2 separate regions of the Homo sapiens genome follow, and region 1 is linked to region 2. The links come from fine-mapping of genetic effects on gene expression. Tissue or cell type: gastroesophageal junction. Region 2 holds a variant in brackets; the other region holds the start of a gene. All regions are shown on one strand. Distances are between the middles of the regions. Region 1 holds the start of PSIP1 (PC4 and SRSF1 interacting protein 1). Region 2 overlaps PSIP1 (PC4 and SRSF1 interacting protein 1).

The links. PIP is the estimated chance that this variant, and not a neighbour inherited with it, causes the effect.
Region 1: PSIP1 starts here. The variant in region 2 is the best candidate, but not a certain one, in a credible set for the expression of PSIP1 in gastroesophageal junction (GTEx, PIP 0.85).

What each region holds. Positions count from the first base shown.
Region 1 is chr9:15,506,489-15,518,415 of GRCh38, reverse strand. It overlaps PSIP1 (PC4 and SRSF1 interacting protein 1), which reads left to right and starts at 7,446. Exons shown (of 16, transcript NM_033222.5): 1 at 7,446-7,599; 2 at 8,087-8,299; 3 at 11,779-11,855. The coding sequence starts at 8,228. RefSeq lists enhancers at 5,156-5,774, 6,427-7,379, 7,380-8,333 and silencers at 7,461-7,540, 7,561-7,770, 7,781-7,840, 7,971-8,020, 8,121-8,320.
Region 2 is chr9:15,466,220-15,474,219 of GRCh38, reverse strand. PSIP1 (PC4 and SRSF1 interacting protein 1) reads left to right here. Exons shown (of 16, transcript NM_033222.5): 9 at 1-211; 10 at 1,470-1,588; 11 at 4,227-4,282; 12 at 4,884-4,954; 13 at 5,162-5,263; 14 at 5,377-5,590; 15 at 7,361-7,472. It also overlaps a transcript of SNAPC3 not described here. Among named protein-coding and RNA genes, the nearest start is that of PSIP1, 41 kb to the left of the region's middle. The variant A/C (reference allele first, on the strand shown) is at 4,485.

The DNA of each region.
Region 1 (11,927 bases), 42 kb before region 2:
AAGATAATTCACAAACATTTTAACAGGGTAATTTGTGGGTATGGAAATTTAAAAAATTCATTGCTACTACTTTGTATTTTCGAAATATTTTGTAATCTGTACATAAACACTGTTTTCTCCAAGCCACCTTAGGTTTCCATATTATTCTAGGTTGATATCTTAACAAATATTTTCTTCACTAAAGGACACATATAAAACATACTTAAGCAGAAATCTTCTACCAACCACTGTGGAGGAGCTAATAAGTTATGAGCTATAATATAAAAAATAAAATAACAATGAGATACCTAATACACATCTAATAGAATGGCCAAGATCCAAAACACAACACCAAATGCTGATGAGGATGTGGAGCAACAGGAACTCTCATTCATTGCTGGTGGGAATATAAAATGGTACAACCACTTTGGGAAACAGTTTGGCAATTTCTTAAAGTGAAACATATTCTTACCATATGAATCAGCAATTACAGAACTTGGTATTTACACAAATAAGTTGAAAACTTATGTTCACACAAAACATGCACATAGTCGTTTATAGCAGTTTTATTCATAATTGCCAAAACTTGGAAGCAACCAAGTTTCCTTCAGTAGGTGAATATTCGAACCAACAAAATATGTCCAGACAATGGAATATGTTTCAGAACTAAAAAGAAATTACCTATCAAGCCATGGAGGAAACTTAAATGCAGATTACGAAGTGAAAGAAGCCTCTGAAAAGGTTACATATTGTATGATTTGGAAAAGGGGAAAGTATGAAGACAGTAAAAAGATAAGTGGTTGCCATGACTTGGGGAATGGACGGATGAATACGCAGGGCAGAAAGGATTTTGAGGGCAGTGAAACTACTCTGTATGATGTTACAGTGGCGGATACATGTCATTATAAATTTGTCCAAACCCATAGAATGCACGAAGCAATAGTGAACCCTAATGTAAACTATGGACATTGGGTAATATGTTAATGTAGTTTCATCAATCGTAAAAAATGTAACACTTTAGTGGGGGATGTTGATAATGATATACGCTATGCATGTGTGGGGGTAGAGGGCATATGGGATACATCTGTATCTTCTCAATTTTGCTGTGAATCTAAAACTGCTCTCAAAAAATAAAATCTTAAAAAAAAACAACAACAAAAAAACCCAAACCAGGCCAGGCACTGTGGCTCGTGCCCATAATCCTACAGTTTTGGGAGGCCGAGGCAGGAGGATTGCTTGAGACCAGGAGTTTGAGATCAGCCTGGGCAACATAGGGAGACCTTGTCTCTACAAAAAATTAAAAAAAAAAAAATAGCTGGGGATAGTGGTATGCGACTGTAGTCCCATCTACTCCACAGGTTGAGAGGGAAGGATCACTTGAGCCTAGGAGTTTGAGGATGCAGTGAGCCGAGATCAGGCCGTTGCACTGCGGCCTGGGCAACAGAGCAAGACCCTGTCTCAAATAATAATAATAATAATAATAATAATAATAATAATAATAATTATAAAAGACCAATCCAAGAAGAAGAAAAAAATCCCCAAACAGCAAAGTCAAACCAGTAATTTGTCATCCAGCAGTCCTTAGAAGTGAAGTTTTCATACAGAACTTTTCCCTCTACATCTAGTTGGATTTTAGACCCAGTCATAGCATAATCCTATACATACATGGAAGACAATTACTTATTTCTCCCCCTAGGTTGTAAACATGGCTAAGATACTAATATCATGCACATTATATATTTATGATCTAATTTAATCCTCACAATAGCCCTCCAAGGCAAGTGTCCTTATTCACATTTCACTGATAAGAAAATAAGTACATGAAGTTAAGAGTTGCCTAATAGCACGTATGGAAAGTGACAGAGCCATGATCAGAACTCATGCTTGACTCCAAAGTCTGTGCTCTCTTTTCTTATGTCATATCAAAGTGGTAACTATTAGTTTTTTCTCTGTAATTGAACATCGAGCACCTGAGTTACTTTTTCTAAATATTAAGATACATTAAATTTGCATTTAAAGTAAAGCCTCTGGTGTCTGTCTGGCTATCAGAGCTCAACCTCACATCCCCTGCTTATCAATAAGCTCATAAGAAAGCACATCGCCAAAATGTTGCATGGTACAATATTTACCATCACTAGTCCTAGGTGACGGTTTTCCAGGAAAAAAGAAAGGGGAGTTCCATTATCAAATAACTTTGGACTGATGGCTAAAAACCCATTTTAGAAATTCATAAAGCAAATTTAATATATTAACAGCTCTGAGATGTCTTACTTTAAAGAAAGCCATGCAACTTTGACTCTGCGTTTCTCAAATTCACTTGTCTATAGAATTTCCTTTTCCCTAATTTAGGCCTTTTAACTTCTCAAGCTATACTACTGTTCTCATAAAACACTCTGAGAAAGCTGACCTAGAAGAATCAATGGTACAAAGACAATAAAAGACATCAGTAGGTTGGTAGGTCTATTGACCAGAGCAAGACATCATTCTACTTTCAAAGCTACACACTTCACACACCAAAATCATGGAGTAAGAACACGGAGGAAAATGAGAAAGAATGTAGACAAAGGAATAAGATGAAGCAGGGAAAAAGGCAAAATCAGGCAGCAGAGTCAAAGAGGAGTATGGCATATACACATGTGGGTAAGAGAACCCTTAACCAAGACTGGAGATGGAGATGTAAGAAAGAAGCAAACCAAGTATCTGAGATGAGAAGTAATCAGGTCATCTAGTGATTTTTTTTAAAAATCCCACTGGACGTTGGGCACAGTGACTCACGCCTGTAATCCTAGCACTCTGGGAGGCCGGGGAGGGCAGATCACCTGAGATCAGGGGTTCGAGACCAGTCTGGCCAACGTGGCAAAACCCTATCTCTCCTAAAACTACAAAAAAAGTAGCCGGGCATGGTGGCACATGCCTGTAATCTCAGCTACTTGGGAAGCTGAGGCAGGAGAATCACTTGAACCCAGGAGGTGGAGGTTGCAGTGAGCCAAGATTGCACCACTGCACTCCAGCCTGGGCAACAGAGTGAGACTCCATCTCAAAAAAAAAAAGAAAAAAAAAAAAGGCCGGGTGCCATGACTCACTCCTGTAATCCTAGCACTTTGGAAGGCCGAGGTGGATGGTCCACTTGAGGTCAGGAGTTCAAAACCAGCCTGGCCAACATAGTGAAACCCTGTCTCTACTAAAAATACAAAAAAAAAAAAAAAAATAGCTAGGTATGGTGGTGGGCACCTGTAATCCCAGCTACTCGGGAGGCTGAGGCAGGATAATTGCCTGAATTCAGGAGGTGGAGGTTGCAGTGGGCCGAGGTTGCGCCACTGCACTCTAGCCTGTGTGACAGAGCGAGACTCCGTCTCAAAAAAAAAAAAAAAAAAAATTCCCACTGGAACGGCCCACAGTCTAGGCAGTCTTCACAAAAGGCACTAATAGTACTCACAGGTCAACTGTCAAACTCTATCTTTGCCTTGCTTCTTTCTAGTCTTTCTAAGGAGCACTCAGATTCCTTAAGACTTCTCTTATCTCATGTGCTGAAAACAACTCTCCTCTAAACATTGGTAAACCAGCTCAGCAGTAAACCTAGCTACCAGCTCATAAGCTAGTACTTCTTGGTTTTTGCCCACCTGGGAGTCAAAGCTTTGAATGCTTATTGATTTTCATGGGAAGCAAGACCTAGATTGGATTTATGACATCCCCAACTAAACTAGCTCTTTGATTAATGCTCTTTATTTTCCCCCATATTCTTGCTAACTTCCCACTATTTCCCCATCATAAGGATTAACATACAACACGAGAAAACAGTTCAATACCTGTTCATACCAATAAATTGAAGGTGCATCACTAACACTGTGTATTAAGGTAGGAAATTATGCAAGAGATACGAAGGAAGAGATTGTTGCTAATTTTTTAGAATAAAGATCTCATTTAGAAAGATTTTCATTAAAATAGTTAAAATGAATGTATTTGTAGTGAATGAAAAATGTCACTGCTCTTAAAGGGTTAACCTTTAAGTACTGTACAAGAAAAATTCATAAAGTCAAAACAAAAACACTTCCATGTGTCATACTTACCTGTATTTTCATCCTAAAGGATTAATGAGTCTGTTGGGGTTTTTCACTTGCCCCTCCCTCTCATTCACTCAATAAATATTTTTGAAAAGGAATTTTTTTTTTGAGAGAGAGTCTCGCTCTGTCACCCTGGCTGGAGTGCAGTGGGGTGATCTTGGAACACTGCAACCTCCTCCTCCCAGGTTCAAGGGATTCTCCTGCCTCAGCCTCCTGAGAAGCTGGGATTAACAGGCGCACACCACCACACCCGGCTAATTTTTGTATTTTTAGTATAGACGGGGTTTCACCATGTTGGCCAGGCTGGTCTTGAACTCCTGACCTCGTGATCCACCTGCCCTGGCCTCCCAGAGTGCTGGGATTACGGGCATGAGCCACCGCGTCCGGCGCTTTTTTATTGAGTACCTGCACTGATGAATAAGATAGTGCCTACTTCTAAGCAGTTTACAGATTAGTAGGAAAGAGTGTAAATAAGAAACTATGTTACTCTAAGATTAGGTCACATCTTTTCCAGAGGTGATTTTTGGGTTGAGTTTTTTAGGACCAGAAGGAGTTAAACAGAATGGTCTCGTGCTGGGGACAAGCTGGGGAATGGCATGGTGTGGAGGGAGGTTGTTAGGAAATTTGAAGCTGGGAATACTTTCAAGCCCAAAGGTGGAAGGTGGAAGAGTAAGTACTGGGCTGCTTTTCCTTCCAGCATCTTTTCTAATTATAAGCCACTCCTCCTTCAGCCTTGCTGCCTCCCTGCCCCACCTAGAGGCGATGTGGGATCACAAAAATGGCATGGGCAAGTAGCCAGAGGGGCTAGAATGTTGCCTCAGCCCCTGGACTAGATGTGTGATCTTGGGCAAGCTAGCTGCTTACCTTCTGTGAGCTTATTTTCTCATCTGTGAAATGGGGATAGTGGCACTTGGGTTAAATGAGATAATGTAGGCCAAGTTCCTGCCTCAACTCATTTGGATTTTCCTGCCCCCTCCCCTTGCTTCAGTTGTTTTGGAAATTACACTCTTTCTCCTTATAACTTTCCCATTGCTCCTCTGATCTCCATTTTGGTATACTTTTTCAAGTATCCCCACTAAGAAGGCTGACTATGGGAGAGGGCTGCACCAAGCATAGCTGGAAAAGAGCACAGAAAAGCTCTCCCAAGTGGCTAGGATGTGCCCAGCTTTCCTTCCCCGTTCCCTGCCCTCCCCTCCCCTCCCCTCCCCCCCCCTTTCCTCGCAGATTCAGAACTGTTGCTCCCAGGGATCCTGGGCTTTTGTTCTCTGGAAGCTTAAACCACCACCTGTTTTGCCTTTATTGTTTAAAGGGTATCTCCTGTTGTTCACAAACTACCACAGGTTGAAGCGGACAAAACTTAAAGGCAGCAGGAGCTAAGTATGGTACTTCCTTTTTTTAAAACAACAAAAACAACAGAAAATACTAATAGTAAAACATCAATGCTTTTCCATTTTCCCTTTTTTATTTCTTTTCTGAGGTCCCCTCTAACACTAACTACCCCCTCTTTACCTGTTAATCCTACCATTAGTACTAATAAAAAGTTATCTTTAACGTTAATTATAACTTGTTATATATCTGTTTTTCTTAGTTTGAAGTTTTTACAGTCTGAGGTATCCTCTAAAGCAGTTTCTCAAACTTGAATATGCGTAAGAATCACCTAGGGATCCTGTTAAAACGCAGATTATGATTTAGAAGGCCTGGGGAAGGTCTGAGCTTTACCTGAGCTCCCAGGTAAAGCCCTTGCTGCTGGGCCTTGGACCACACTTGAAGTAGCAAGGCCTTACAGGGTTTAGAACAAATAAAGTGCATACACACAAAAAAATGATTGCTGGATGCTGCTTTGGTCTCTCTTACTCTGTATCTTGAGCTTTTCTTCAATACATCTTTTTCCACCTTTTCCTATGCATAATTTATAGCCAACACCTGACAATCATTCCTTTGTGTAATTACTTAGTTGTGCTCTTCCTTCCCTTTTCTTAGTCACCATTCTCACTGAGAAATGCGTCATTTCATGAGTACTCCAGTTACCCCCAGCCTCTTTCTACTAACATCTACCTTGAAACATCAAGAACTGGTTAAATAATCATTTTTACCCCCTTCTTGCTGAGCAACCTATAGTAGCTTCCTACTACACACATTAAATTCATATTCAGAATGAGAAGCTTCAAGACATTTCACCAACCCTTCCTTCTCCTCTGCCAATTTCTCTTTTTGCTCCACTTGGAACTCTCTGCATATTGCCCAGGTATACTTAGTTTCTCGAAACTCCTTACAGGACATTTTACTTTGGGACTGTCTTCTTTCATTCCTTTTTAAAGACATGCTGTATCGCTTTCAAAAAATTCTCAATTTTTACCAATTCAAAAAAAATTTCCTAATTCATTTCCAGTTGAGTCCCGTATTTAAAACAGTATTATCTAGGTGCTAATATATGTCTTATTATTCTTATTTTTATATGTCTTAACATTCTTTTTAAAAATATTTTCAGCCTCTCTAAAGGATCAAAAAATTAACCTTTAAAATCCCTTGAAGAGCATTTTAAGAGAGAAAATATTTGAGGTTTAGTAACACTTACACATTGTACCACCTACCAGCTCCTATTCTACTAGGGAAATAAAATTTAGATGCAGCTAAAATTTAGTTAGGGCCCAAACTCACATCCTATCTAAAAGGTTTCTGTTTTCCTGTCATTGTTTTCTACCCTTCGCATTTTGCATTCAGTAGGGTTGCATTTTTCTTAATAGTTCTTGGTGATGCAAATGCAAAAGAAATGAAATAGGGCTCTCTCATACTACAATTTCAAGGAAAAGGAGACTACGAGGCCCATTCAGCGAGGTGCAAGAGGCCTAGATGCAGCACACCCTGCAACCGCCGCATGCTCCAATTTCATCTTAGGGTTTTCGTACAGCTCCTCTTTTTTGGATGATGCAAACCGCGCAAAAGCAGCATTCAAACCTCCCCACCCTGGAAACGATACAAGAACATGAATCTTTACTGCCACTTTCTCCCTAACACGCAGCCAAGGGAGAGAGGCCCGGATACCCGCCCCCAAAACCGCGTCCACAACAATCATTTCCTCCCTCCCCGCCTTTTACATACAGTACACATACAAATACACACACGCAGAGAAGCCAGCAGGGGCGGGCCGGGCCCGACCACTCCGCAAACCGCAGGGGGAACTTGCGGCAGGCCGAGCTATTTTCGCCCAGTCCTTTCTTCTTCGCTTGCGTCTTCCTCTCCATCTGCATGCACCTGTTACATGAAAGCGAACTTGGGGACGTAGGGTTTCCAGAAAATCCGCTTCGGAGCCACACAGCTTCGCCGGGTGCTGCAACATCCCCCCTCTCTCGGTAAACAGTTGGTCGCGCCCCAGTGCTAGCGGGCGCCGAGCGGGAGCCGCGCGGGAGCAGCGCAGCTACGGCGGCGGCAGCGGCGGCGCGGTTGCGATTCCGAGCCGTTGAGACGCCTCTGCGGCAGCTGGTGGCGCAGGTGGCTTGCGTGGACGCGGGTAGAGGCGACCGGCCAGCAACCGCAGCGTCGGCGCCCGCGGCCCCGGCAGGTGAGCGGGCGACGGGGACTCGCCCCGCCCCCCCCTCGGTGGCGTCGCTCCTGGCTGTAGCGGGGAAGTGGACGCGGCCCGCCCGGGAGCCGAGGGGGCCGAGGCTGCAGCCGCTGGGCAGCAGGTTGCGGGGGAGGCCTTGCGTGGGCGGAAGGGGGCCGCTCGCTTCTCGGAATCCCTGCCTTTTTCTCTCCCATGCACCCCCTCCCTTTTGGGGCTTAAGCTCGGTGGAAAAAGCCCGGAGAAAGATGGGGCGGGCAGACGGGCGATTTCTGGCCGGGCAGCATCCCTGCTTCAGGTGGTGGCGTCTCTTCGGTGGCGGGGTGGAGGACCTGCTCCAGCGCGGAGGCAGCGCACTGGCGGGGGAGGAGCGGGAGGCGGCCGTCCCCTCGCTCTCCCACCCCCACCCGCCGGTTCCCCTCCCCCTCCCCTTGCGGCCCCTCCCTTCGGGGTTCTTCGCTTTAACCGCCCTCGGTGCTCTCCCTAGCAGGCGCGTCGGGACGCCCCGAGGCATCCTCCCCCGCCCGCGGGCCCGGTAGCTGGGCCCGCGTCCGCCGCCCGCATCCCCGCGCCGCCGCATCTCCTCGCCGCCTCCCGGGCTTCGGACCCCCGGTCTCGCCCCCGAAACATGACTCGCGATTTCAAACCTGGAGACCTCATCTTCGCCAAGATGAAAGGTTATCCCCATTGGCCAGCTCGAGTAAGTGATTTGTAGCCCTCGCGCTTAGCAGTGCTACCCTCCTCTCCAGAGGCCTGCTGCCCACCGTGTCTCTTTATTTTTTCTTCTGTCCTTTCTCTCCCTCGCTTTAGTCTCATTTGTAACCTGACCTTTCATTTTAGTTTTTTGCCCAATAATCTCCCGTGTAATTATGAAAATCCAGACGTTTCTACATACCTGTGTATTTCCCTATGGTTTATTGGCAGACTTGGACAGATTTTCTTCCTAGGAAATATTTAAATGCGTTGCTAGTTAATATTCCATTGTAGGTGAAATAATGAAGAGTGAATTTTTGTTTAAAAATTAGTGAAACATTGACATTTCCATAGTTTTGGATCAAGTACAAAATATCAATGGAATTTGTGCAGATTACACACAAACACTTGGATGTCAGAGAAGTGCGTATGTGATTAAATTGGATTTACAGGGTTTTAAAAAAAATACCTTGTACTTGATGAGGCCTTCTGGATTTGCTTGTTTAATACAGATTCAGGACTGGATATTCTTGAAAGTATTACAGTAGTTTAGTACCGAGGAAGGGCCAGAAAATTCATTTCTCCTTTTTTATTTGAGATGTTTATGACCTTGAAGAAGTTGTTTTACCTTTTTGTTTCCAATAGGCAAAAAGGAGGTGTGGACCAGATTCCTCAGTTCACATCTAGTGGTACAGAGAAATGATTAAGGACCCAGGATGTTTTGTGACATTGAGGAATTGAGACTGTTTAAAGATCTACGCTCCATTTTTAGAAAAAGGGTTCTTTTTGTTTATGGTGGTACCCAGGCTCTCAAACAGAGATAGATAGGACCTAAGATATGTTGCAATCAATTAGATTAGGTAAACTCAAGATCCTTTAAAAATATACTTACATGGGGTTCTGAAGTTTTATTTTTCCAAGCCATTTATTTTCGACTAATTTACTGTCCTTTGAAAATGTATTTCTTAAAAATAATTAAATTCTGTAGTTTTAGTTATGTCAGCAGGGGAATGGTGGAAAACACCCATTAGATAACGGAGTCCTGTCTAGGAGCTGAGAGTGCCATCCAAGTGTAAAACGATCACTGTTCCTTGACTTTCTTCCATCTAGCTGCTCTACGTAAACTCCTGTTCACAAGTTTCCTTCCAAAGCTTTTTTCCTTGCCTATAAAGTCTGCCTTTTCGGTGCAGTCTTACTTGAACAATCCTTAGTCATAATCCTTGTCTGTATATTTTACATTCTAATCTATTCCTTTCGTGATAATCTTTTGTTTTAATTCTTAACTCTGTGTATGCTTTGACCTCCAAATATATTGTGAGACCGAGGGCAACAACCTTAAATGGAATTTGTTTATACCCTCCATAGTCCGTAGTATATATGATGCACCTATAAAACACAATTCACGTTCAAATGGAGCCTAGGGAAACTGATCAGGTTTAAGGCCCCTCTGATATACTTTTTCATGGTCTTCGAGGTATCCTTGTTTATTTTGAGGTGTTTGAAAATATGAGGTTGTCTAATAGATCTATATTCCGATTTGCATGCCACAGTGAAGTTAAAAGCCAAAGGAAATGTTTAAAAAATCTCCCAAATCACCCTCCCCACGCTCATATGTTAAGTGACTAAGAGTGCTACTGAAAATAAAATAGGGTAGCCTTTGGAAGACCAGAGTGTTTTCCTTATTTAACAAGTTCTACATTTAACAAGTTCATTTGGATTGGAAGGGAAGTGTTTGTCTTTTCCCTTTTCCCCATCATTTTTTCTGAGAAACACCTCCATTTAGTGTTGGTGTATTCTGTGTCCAACAGTTACATTCCTTTTTCTGTCTTCTTCATTCTTAAAAATTTGAAATCTTTGCTGTAGAGTTTAGAGTCCATATTTAAAGTCTGAGCCGTAAAGGTGACACCTCTTGTTGCAATTTTTGCTTTAACATTTCTGTCTACATGTCCCAAACTTCATTAATTTTTAAGTCTTAAACATTCATGTACATAATCGTTTACCAGTAATAATTATTTAAAAAATCAACTTAAATTTTGCCCGGCATTTGCTAAAGGCTATAGGTGCTAGGTATTTGCATAAACTCTTTAAGCTGTTTGCTAGCAGAAAGAGGCATATGAACTGGGTTAACAGAAATGATCTCTTAAGGGATTAAGGATTTTTGCAATTATCGGGACATTCCCACAAAGTTGAGATAACAGGTGTGATCTTCATCATATAAGTGGGGAAATAGGTCCCTAGAGATATTGGGTGGTAATGATTCTGTTGGTGTGTGAAAGCCTTTAGACTTCCCTCACAAATCAGTTCAGTCATCCTGATGGTCTTCTTCTGCAACACCATAATGCTTACAGAGGATAGTAGGTCCTCTGATGGTCAACCCCCTTCTTAACAAAGTCAGCTGATTTTCAAATTGAAGTGTTTTTGAAATTATGAAAATTATGACATTTAAAATAGATATGTTGTTAAATTCTTTTTTTTTGTTTTTTTTAAAGACAGGATCTCACTCTGTCACCCAGGCTTGAGTGCAGTGGCATGATCTCGGCTCACTGCAACCTCTGTTGCCCAGGTTCAAGTGATTCGCCTCTGGAGTGGCTGAGATTACAGGCACCTGACACCGTGCCCTGCTAATTTTTGTATTTTTAGTAGAGACCGGGTTTCACCATATTGGTCAGGCTGGTCTTGAACTCCTGACCTCATGATCCATCCACCTTGCCCTCCCAGAGTGCTGGGATTACAGGTGTGAGCCACCGCGCCTGGCCGACATGTTGTTAAATTCTAGCTAGATAGTACTGCTTTAGTCCTGAGGTCTGCTTTTCCTTTATTGATGAGGGAAAGTAACAAGTATTATGGATATATTAGACGTGACAGCACCTGATGATTTCTTCCTTACATAATTTAAAAGGTTGAAAGAGCAGTGAAAAAGGAACAGGTAGCCTCATGTGATTCAGGCACATCAGTGAAGGATCTTTTCATAGTAAGTTTTTCAGACTTTGGGAGGTACTGATTTAAACTTTTGTCAATGTCTGCTTTTACATTAGTCTGTTATTTGTATAGATTTCCTGCAGAACTAACATTTAGGGTTGTCAAATAGGTTCAGACTCCTTACCTGAAATGATATGATTAACAATTCAGAATTCTGGGATTTTAGGAAGGCAGGGAGAGTACATATGCCATATATTTTGCTGCTGGTGCGGTCTGGAATAGCACATAATAATATGTCTGCAAAGAAACAACAGTGGAAACAGGTGGATAAAAGAAATGACTGATACCCTCAATGTCAGTCCAGGTTTTGCCACCAAATGAGTTTTGACAGAAATTTTGGTTTTCAGAGCTTCTTGGGTTTCAGATTTGGGGATAGGAGATTATGGGCCTGCAGAACTGGCCCATTTTATAACAGAACCCTTTTGGATGTTGTGCTCTTGTTTATTCAGATAAATGTTGAGGTGTGTATGATTTAAAATATTTTAATTTTTCTCACTTTTCTTTTAGGTAGACGAAGTTCCTGATGGAGCTGTAAAGCCACCCACAAACAAACTACCCATTTTCTTTTTTGGAACTCATGAGACGTAAGTCCTGTTAGCTTTAAAGGCAAATCAGAGCTAATTTAACAGGGTTATTAGGCAGTAGACATTAATTCA
Region 2 (8,000 bases):
AAGTAAGAAAAAGGGGCAAGAGGAAAAACAACCTAAAAAGCAGCCTAAGAAGGATGAAGAGGGCCAGAAGGAAGAAGATAAGCCAAGAAAAGAGCCGGATAAAAAAGAGGGGAAGAAAGAAGTTGAATCAAAAAGGAAAAATTTAGCTAAAACAGGGGTTACTTCAACCTCCGATTCTGAAGAAGAAGGAGATGATCAAGAAGGTGAAAAGGTATAAAGTTTACATATATAAAATGGCTGTTCTATTCTTAGTTTATATATATATTTTTTGTTTTTTCTTTGTTTTTTTTTTGTTTTTTTTTTTGTTTTTTTTTTGTTTGAGATGGAGTCTCGCTGTGTTGCTTAGGCTGGAGTGCAGTGGCACAATCTTGGTTCACTGCAACCTCTGCCTCCTGGATTCAAGTAATTCTCCAGCCTTAGCCTCCTGAGTAGCTGGAAGTACAGGCATGTGCCACCACTACCGGCTAATTTTTGTATTTTTAGTGGAGACAAGGTTTTGCAATCTTGGTCAGGCTGGTCTTGAACTCCTGATCTCAGGTGAACCTCCCACCTTGGCCTCCCAAAGTGCCGGGATTACAGGCACCACACCTGGCCATTTATGTATTTCTTAATCTGCCCAGTTTAAGAGCTTTTAATATTTTGGAGGAAGTCTATAAATATCAGTGGCAGTTAAAATGAATTTGTTTACCTTTTTGAATAGACTTGAATTAGCTGTGTTACAAAGCATATTGAAAACGTCCCTTTATTATCTGTTCTCTAAATTCATCTATTTTACAATTATGATCTGGAAATTAAGTAAACAGTACCTTTCCAATAACCCCATCTGTCTAGAAAAGGTAGATGAAATAGGCTGTGGCCAGTGAAGACAAATGTTAAAAGAGGTGGATTTATATAGAGATTTTTGTTATTTACCCCCAAGAAGTTCTTAACACCCTTCAGGCCTATTGTACATTTTATCAGTGGTATGTAAATTTATTTGGACGCCATAGTTGTTGGGAACCTCATTAAAGCTGTGTATCCTTTTGTGTAGAAAAATAAAATTTTGTGTATAGCCTTAGAGATTTACAGATTCAGGTCATGCAAATCTTTTGTTTACTTTCATCTGATTTTTGGCTCATTTCTTAATCTTTTAGAAACCAAACATTTTAAATTGGATAGGTCATGTAGTGTGCTTGTCAGTACTCAAGTCAAATCACTCTGTAGAGAGGCAAACAGACTGACATACTATATTTTATCCAAAGGACATCACTCCTATAGCAGGGCATAAAACAAGATGATTATTTCACGGTCATTAATCAAAGTTAAACTTGCAGAGATAGGTGTAATTCAAAGACTATTTTTAGGTTGCTAATTTGAGTATTCATCCCTTTTTTAAAAACTAGCTGCTGCTTTTCCCCCAAGATTATAATTCCATAAGCACTAGTCACTGACTTTATAGTTAAATAAAACCATCCTAATTCTCAAAACAGAAGAGAAAAGGTGGGAGGAACTTTCAGACTGCTCACAGAAGGAATATGCTGAAAGGCCAACATGAGAAAGAAGCAGCAGATCGAAAACGCAAGCAAGAGGAACAAATGGAAACTGAGCAGTAAGTATTTTTTTTTTTCTAAATTTTGGGTTCTTTTTAAAGGCTAGCATGGAATTTTTAAATAATAGACTTTCATTTTCCAGACTTTATGAAGCCTTTTGAAGAAGTGACTTTTCCCATGTGTTAGAAAAATCTTCAATATATGATGATGATCTTATTTCAGGCTTCATTCTCTTCTGAGAGGATGAAATTGACTGAGGCAGTCACTCTGTGAATTATTTTTGAATTTAAACGAAGTGCAGATAGGATTTAATTGATACTGGCTTTGCAAGAAGTGTACTCATCCTCAACCATTTGTTTGTATAATATAATACATATAGATAGAGGGGCGATAATATACTGGTAGACAAAGAATGCAGGAAATGCCCTTATTCATCACACCACCAAGCAGGCCTCACCCTAAAGACCAGCAAAAGTAACAAAAGCACATTTGGAAACCCAGGAAGCCAGTAAAAGTAAATCTAAAGGCTGACAGGGTGTACATTATTATGTATGTGCAATATAAATCAAATTCAAAGCTGTTTTCTCTTAAATTTTGATACTTATAGAGACAGGACTTGCCATGGGGAATTTCTTTCCCCTTACTATATAATTTTATTACTAGAAGGAAAAGTAATAGCAATGATAATAATGAACAGACTTCGTGTCTTTATTACATTTGCTTTCCTAGTTACCTTTAGACTGTCACTTCTGAGTTCTTTCTCTGACATGCTTTTCTTTTCTCGTGAAGCGTCTTACATTCTGACTAAATTTTGTTTTTTTGTTGTTGTTTTAGTGAGGTGATTTTTAAAACATGCTCTAGGTCAATAAGACAAAGTTAATGATGAGCAGTAAAACAATTCTTGAACAATTTTGTACTTTTTTTCTTTATATAATATATCCGTAAGCCAAAGTCTTTCTTGACAAGTACAGCGTTTTACTCTGCTTTCTTAGTTTGGAGGATATACAAGTAGTTTTAGCTCCTTGAGGGAGTAATTTAAATAACTTATCTAAAGCTCAAAAATATTATTCCCTCTAATGTTAGACTTTAAGCACTTCTGTAAATATTTAAGTTATTCTTTGTCACCTATCATTTTCTATTCTATCTTTTCACTGAAAAGCTGTTGGACTGTTTGTTGCTTTTGACTTTATTGTGATCTCAAAATTAAGATATAAAATTAGTTGTTACTAGTATATGTAGCCCAACCCTTCTTTAGTATCTTAAAGTTATCTTTATGTATTTCAGTTTCTTTTGAATGTCCTCCAATGTAACTTTCTCAAATTCTAATATTTGTGTTTTCTTTCCTTCTCCTGTTATTACAAAACTTTGTACTTGGACAGTTTTGCTCTGTAAAGCATTTCAGATGCAGCTTGTGTGAAATGCATTATGCAAAATAAAGTTTATTGTATTGTATTCCCAGCCAAACAACATGTAATCTACAGTAATAAAAAATATATCTCATTTTGGGCTCAAAGCATTAATCCAGTTACTGAAAAGAGAATACAAGTGGAGCAAACAAGAGATGAAGATCTTGATACAGACTCATTGGACTGAATTTCCCCCTTCCCCCCATTGATGGAAGAATGTTCCAGATTCTAAATTGAGGACTTCATTATTAATGGCATTACTGTGTTATGATTAACAAATTTCCTGTAAGGTACACACTACATACTAAGGTCGGCCATCATTCCTGTTTTTTTTTTTTTTTTTTTTTTTTAACCAAGCTTAAAATGAAGCTTTGTGTTTGAAAGTAATAACAAGCTCAGACGAAGATGGTGGTTGTACATTATTCATCTAGAAAATATAAAAATTCATTTTGTTTTGAAGCTAGTTATTAAACTGGAATAGCAGTTATATCCCTGAGAATGGGGCCCTTCTCTTGACATTCCTTTGTTGTTTAATTCTTTAGAATCTTAATAAATGTTTTTTTAATCCTGAGAGATTAAACAGTAGTAGACTTGTTAAGAATGAAACTGTAACCAAAATTTTAAAATAAAGTTTTTTTTAAAAAAAAAACCTGATTTTTAGATATTTTTTGTTCTTGTCTATTTGAATTGGTTCATAATATGGCCTGAACTCTAAGCCAAGGTACTAGAAATTAAGATTTCAATTTTAAGTGGTTATTTTTGTGATTGACAATAAAATGGTACCTTTTGTGAAATGTTAGTGAATGTTACTGGACGTCATTCAAGTTTGATGAATTGGCCAAAATTTTAAAAACAGTGTTATCTTAAGTCTATTTAACTTTAAAGCTAACTTCAGAACTCATTAATCTGCTTGTTACATGCACAATGATTAAATTGGTCTATTTTAAGATGCAGCTTTAAAAAAGAATGGATGTAGAAGCCATTAAACATTTATAGGTGTCATCTTCCCATTGTGGCCTGTTTGTCCAGTGACCCTGAAATTGCTCTTCTAGCAACACACTATTTGTGATGTCACTGAAAAGCCAGATATGATTTAATCTAGCATGTTAATTAGAGTTTTGCTTATATTTATGCTACGGAACTGCACCATTCTAAGAGCTACAGTCAGTTCCTTTGCAGTCTAGGCTATTGACTTATTTTAAGGAAAACATTTTTAGCTTTTACATAGGGATTGTGGGCATTTAGTCACAAAATTCCAATGTGTTGAAATATTTTTGTTAACATTTGATAGGCAGAATAAAGATGAAGGAAAGAAGCCAGAAGTTAAGAAAGTGGAGAAGAAGCGAGGTTAGTTATTTCACTTTCTAAGATACATAAAATTATACATGGAAAAGAAGTTATATAGACATAACTTTTCATGTATTGGTTTTGGAATAATTTTATACTCATATCCTACAAATAGAATTTTTCAAATCCCTAATGGGCTTTATATAAATTGCATTGTATTTTAAGCATAATCAAGTGAACTTGCTTGAGTTGTTTATGTTTA[A/C]TGCTCATTAATTATTTGATGGTGTCAAATTTTAGTACACTTGCTGAAAGCTGGATGCTTTCCCATTTCAGACAAATCCCTTGGTTAAACATAAGGAAAAGCAGGTGTTTGGGGACTGGAGAGCAGAGGAGTTATCATATGCAGACTATTTATTTTAGGAAAAACGCAGCCAAGTGGTGGTTTTGTGCTTTTACACTGCATGTTGCTTTTCTCAACCACTAAAAATGGCAATAAGTACTTATTCTTAGTTAAGCTATTGTGCATATCTTTGAGCTTCTTAGTAAAGATTACTAAGAACATTTTTTTTTTAAGTCCACTAATTCATTATACTTAGCCTGTATATAGAAATACTGGTTTTGGAAAAACTGTTCACTGTTTTTCACATATTTTAATTTGTAGAAACATCAATGGATTCTCGACTTCAAAGGATACATGCTGAGATTAAAAATTCACTCAAAATTGATAATCTTGTAAGTGTTTAACTTCATTTAATACTTCAGTACTGCATTTATAGCTTCATCTTTTATTTTCTCACATGATCTTATGAGTATGTAAATTTAAGGGATAATTACTGGTCATTTTGCACTACCTCTTTTTTTTTGGAAACGATCTTTAGAAACAGATTGTTTAAGTGTTAAGATAATTAACAGCTATGAAATTACTGTTTTGTCATGAAGGATGTGAACAGATGCATTGAGGCCTTGGATGAACTTGCTTCACTTCAGGTCACAATGCAACAAGCTCAGAAACACACAGAGATGATTACTACACTGAAAAAAGTAAGTGATTTCAAGTCATGTGGATTCTTTGAATTTTGTCATTACTTCATTTAAAAATTGTTTAAAAAATCAATTAGGAAAACAATTATGATGAATGTATATTGTTTTCTCAGATACGGCGATTCAAAGTTAGTCAGGTAATCATGGAAAAGTCTACAATGTTGTATAACAAGTTTAAGAACATGTTCTTGGTTGGTGAAGGAGATTCCGTGATCACCCAAGTGCTGAATAAATCTCTTGCTGAACAAAGACAGCATGAGGAAGCGAATAAAACCAAAGATCAAGGGAAGAAAGGGCCAAACAAAAAGCTAGAGAAGGAACAAACAGGTATGTGGTAAAAAGCCAACAATTTCACACCAGTTTTTAAACCATTTGCCAGGACTGCTTTTAAAAATGGCTTTCATACATAGTTTCACTGTGTATACGCCACAGAAAAAGTATACAAAGGCAAAATGGTGAAAATCTGATGGGCCTATTGAAGGACTAGAGCAGTGTGCATTGAGAACAAAAAATCATGTCAGTTTATATTCGACTTCTAAGGCAGAAACCATTGCTCATGAGGCAGATGACTCTGGATAAACAATTTTTAAAAACCCATCCATCACAATGCCTCCTAATCCCTAGAGTACCCACTTCCTGGTTGCTCAGCTGCTTCTGTTTTCTTCTCACCTAAAAAGTAAAATAGCGTACAGTAGCCTTTTAAATTAAAACACAGCCTCATAGGTGGAGACTACACCTGCCATTACTTGATACAGGTATTCTGATGATGCTGCTGAGTTACCCTGAACAGACTTCACAGTATTAATGCCATGTCCTTTTTTTTTTTTTTTTTTAAAAGATGGAGTTTCGCTCTTGTTGTCCAGGCTGGAGTGCAGTGGCGTGATCTCGGCTCACCACAACCCTCCACCTTCTGGGTTCAAGCGATTCTCCTGCCTCAACCTCCAGAGTAGCTGGGATTACAGGCATACGCCACCACACCTAGCTAATTTTGTATTTTTAGTAGGCACGGGGTTTCTCCATGTTGGTCAGGCTGGTCTTGAACTCCCGACCTATGGTAATCCACCTGCCGTGGCTTCCCAAAGTGCTGGGATTACAGGCATGAGCCACCGCGCCTGGTGATAAAGTCTTACAAAGCACTTAGATGTGTAGCATATATGTAAGGCACTGAACCTTAGCTTCTACTTTTTTCACTAACTTTAGCAGTAGTTAAATCCTGCTAGTACTTATTACTAACAGTAGTTATTTTCTTTTCATTTGTATTAGGAAAAATTTATAACTTATACAAATAGAAATAACTTCTCATGTCCTTGTCATCCAGCTTTGGCAGTTCAGTTTATGATCATTGTGCTTTTGTAGCCCATAAGCTTTCTCTATGCCCCTCTTGAAAGTTGTTTTACGAAAAATCCCTGACATACCATTTCACTCATAAACATTTCAGAATGTATGAAAGACTCTTAAAACAGAATCATAGTACCATTATCAGCTCCTCCAGTCTTGTTATTAAACATCTTAGTGGCAGCTGCTTAAGGTAAAAGCTGGCATTTCAAAAGCAGTCGGTTGGTTTTTTGTTTTTGTTGCTTTATTGGGGAATGACATGGGTCCCCTTAGAGAATTATTAATACGACTTACAGGAAAACCCCCTTTATTAGGCACAAAAATATCAATTAGGAAATACTCCTTTAGCACTTTGTTCTAAAATAGTAAATTTTAAAATTTGATTCACATTGCTTTTCCGTGGTAGAATAAATGAATATGCTAAGAATTACAACACCCTGTAGTATTCCTGGTAATAGTAACAACCAGAATAATCAGATTAATAATCCACTTCCTGTACTCATAGATAGTTAACCTGCTTTTTATGGTGCCTTAGCTACCCAAAGCCTCTGGTGGTCATCTGCTCCCCTTTTTGACAAAGCCATCAAAACCCAATTCTAACATTCAAGAGAGGGCTGTATTACAATGTAATTTCAAATAAAAGACATTAAGTAGTAGAAACACGATGGCCATGTTGTATTTTGATTCTGGATCTTTAGTGGACACCTTCAATTATTGTTTTGTAAGCTTTAACAAAGTTTTTCCATTGGATTCCTTCGCAAGGGTCAAAGACTCTAAATGGAGGATCTGATGCTCAAGATGGTAATCAGCCACAACATAACGGGGAGAGCAATGAAGACAGCAAAGACAACCATGAAGCCAGCACGAAGAAAAAGTGAGGAATAGGTTTTAATGGGTCTTGTGTGTTTTTTATTATTCAGGTTTTTAATCACAGTTCTGTTCCAAGGTTATCTTACTATAATAAGCAGTTATCTTTTGATCACCCAATTCCTGAATTCAGTAAGCAAGTTACAATTCAAAAAGGAAGAAGAGTAAAAACCTTTTATTGACAGTGACTTTGCCACTGAATTCAAGGGAATGGAACTAGCTGGGAACCCAGTTAAAAAGAAAATATTTGCTCCTGGACTACTTTTACTGAGATACTGTTAGTAATGACTTGCATTCACACTTTCTTGAATTGTGAAAGGATAATTGTAAAAAGTTAGATGGAGAATCACAGTTTTGTTGTTGTTGTTTTTTCTTTGAGACAGAGTTTCACTCTTGTTGCTCAGGCTGGAGTGCAATGGCACGATCGTGCTCACTGCAACCTCCACTTCCTGGGTTCAAGCGATTCTCCTGCCTCAGCCTCCCAAGTAGCTGGGATTACAGGCACCTGCCACCACGCCCATCTAATTTTTTGTAT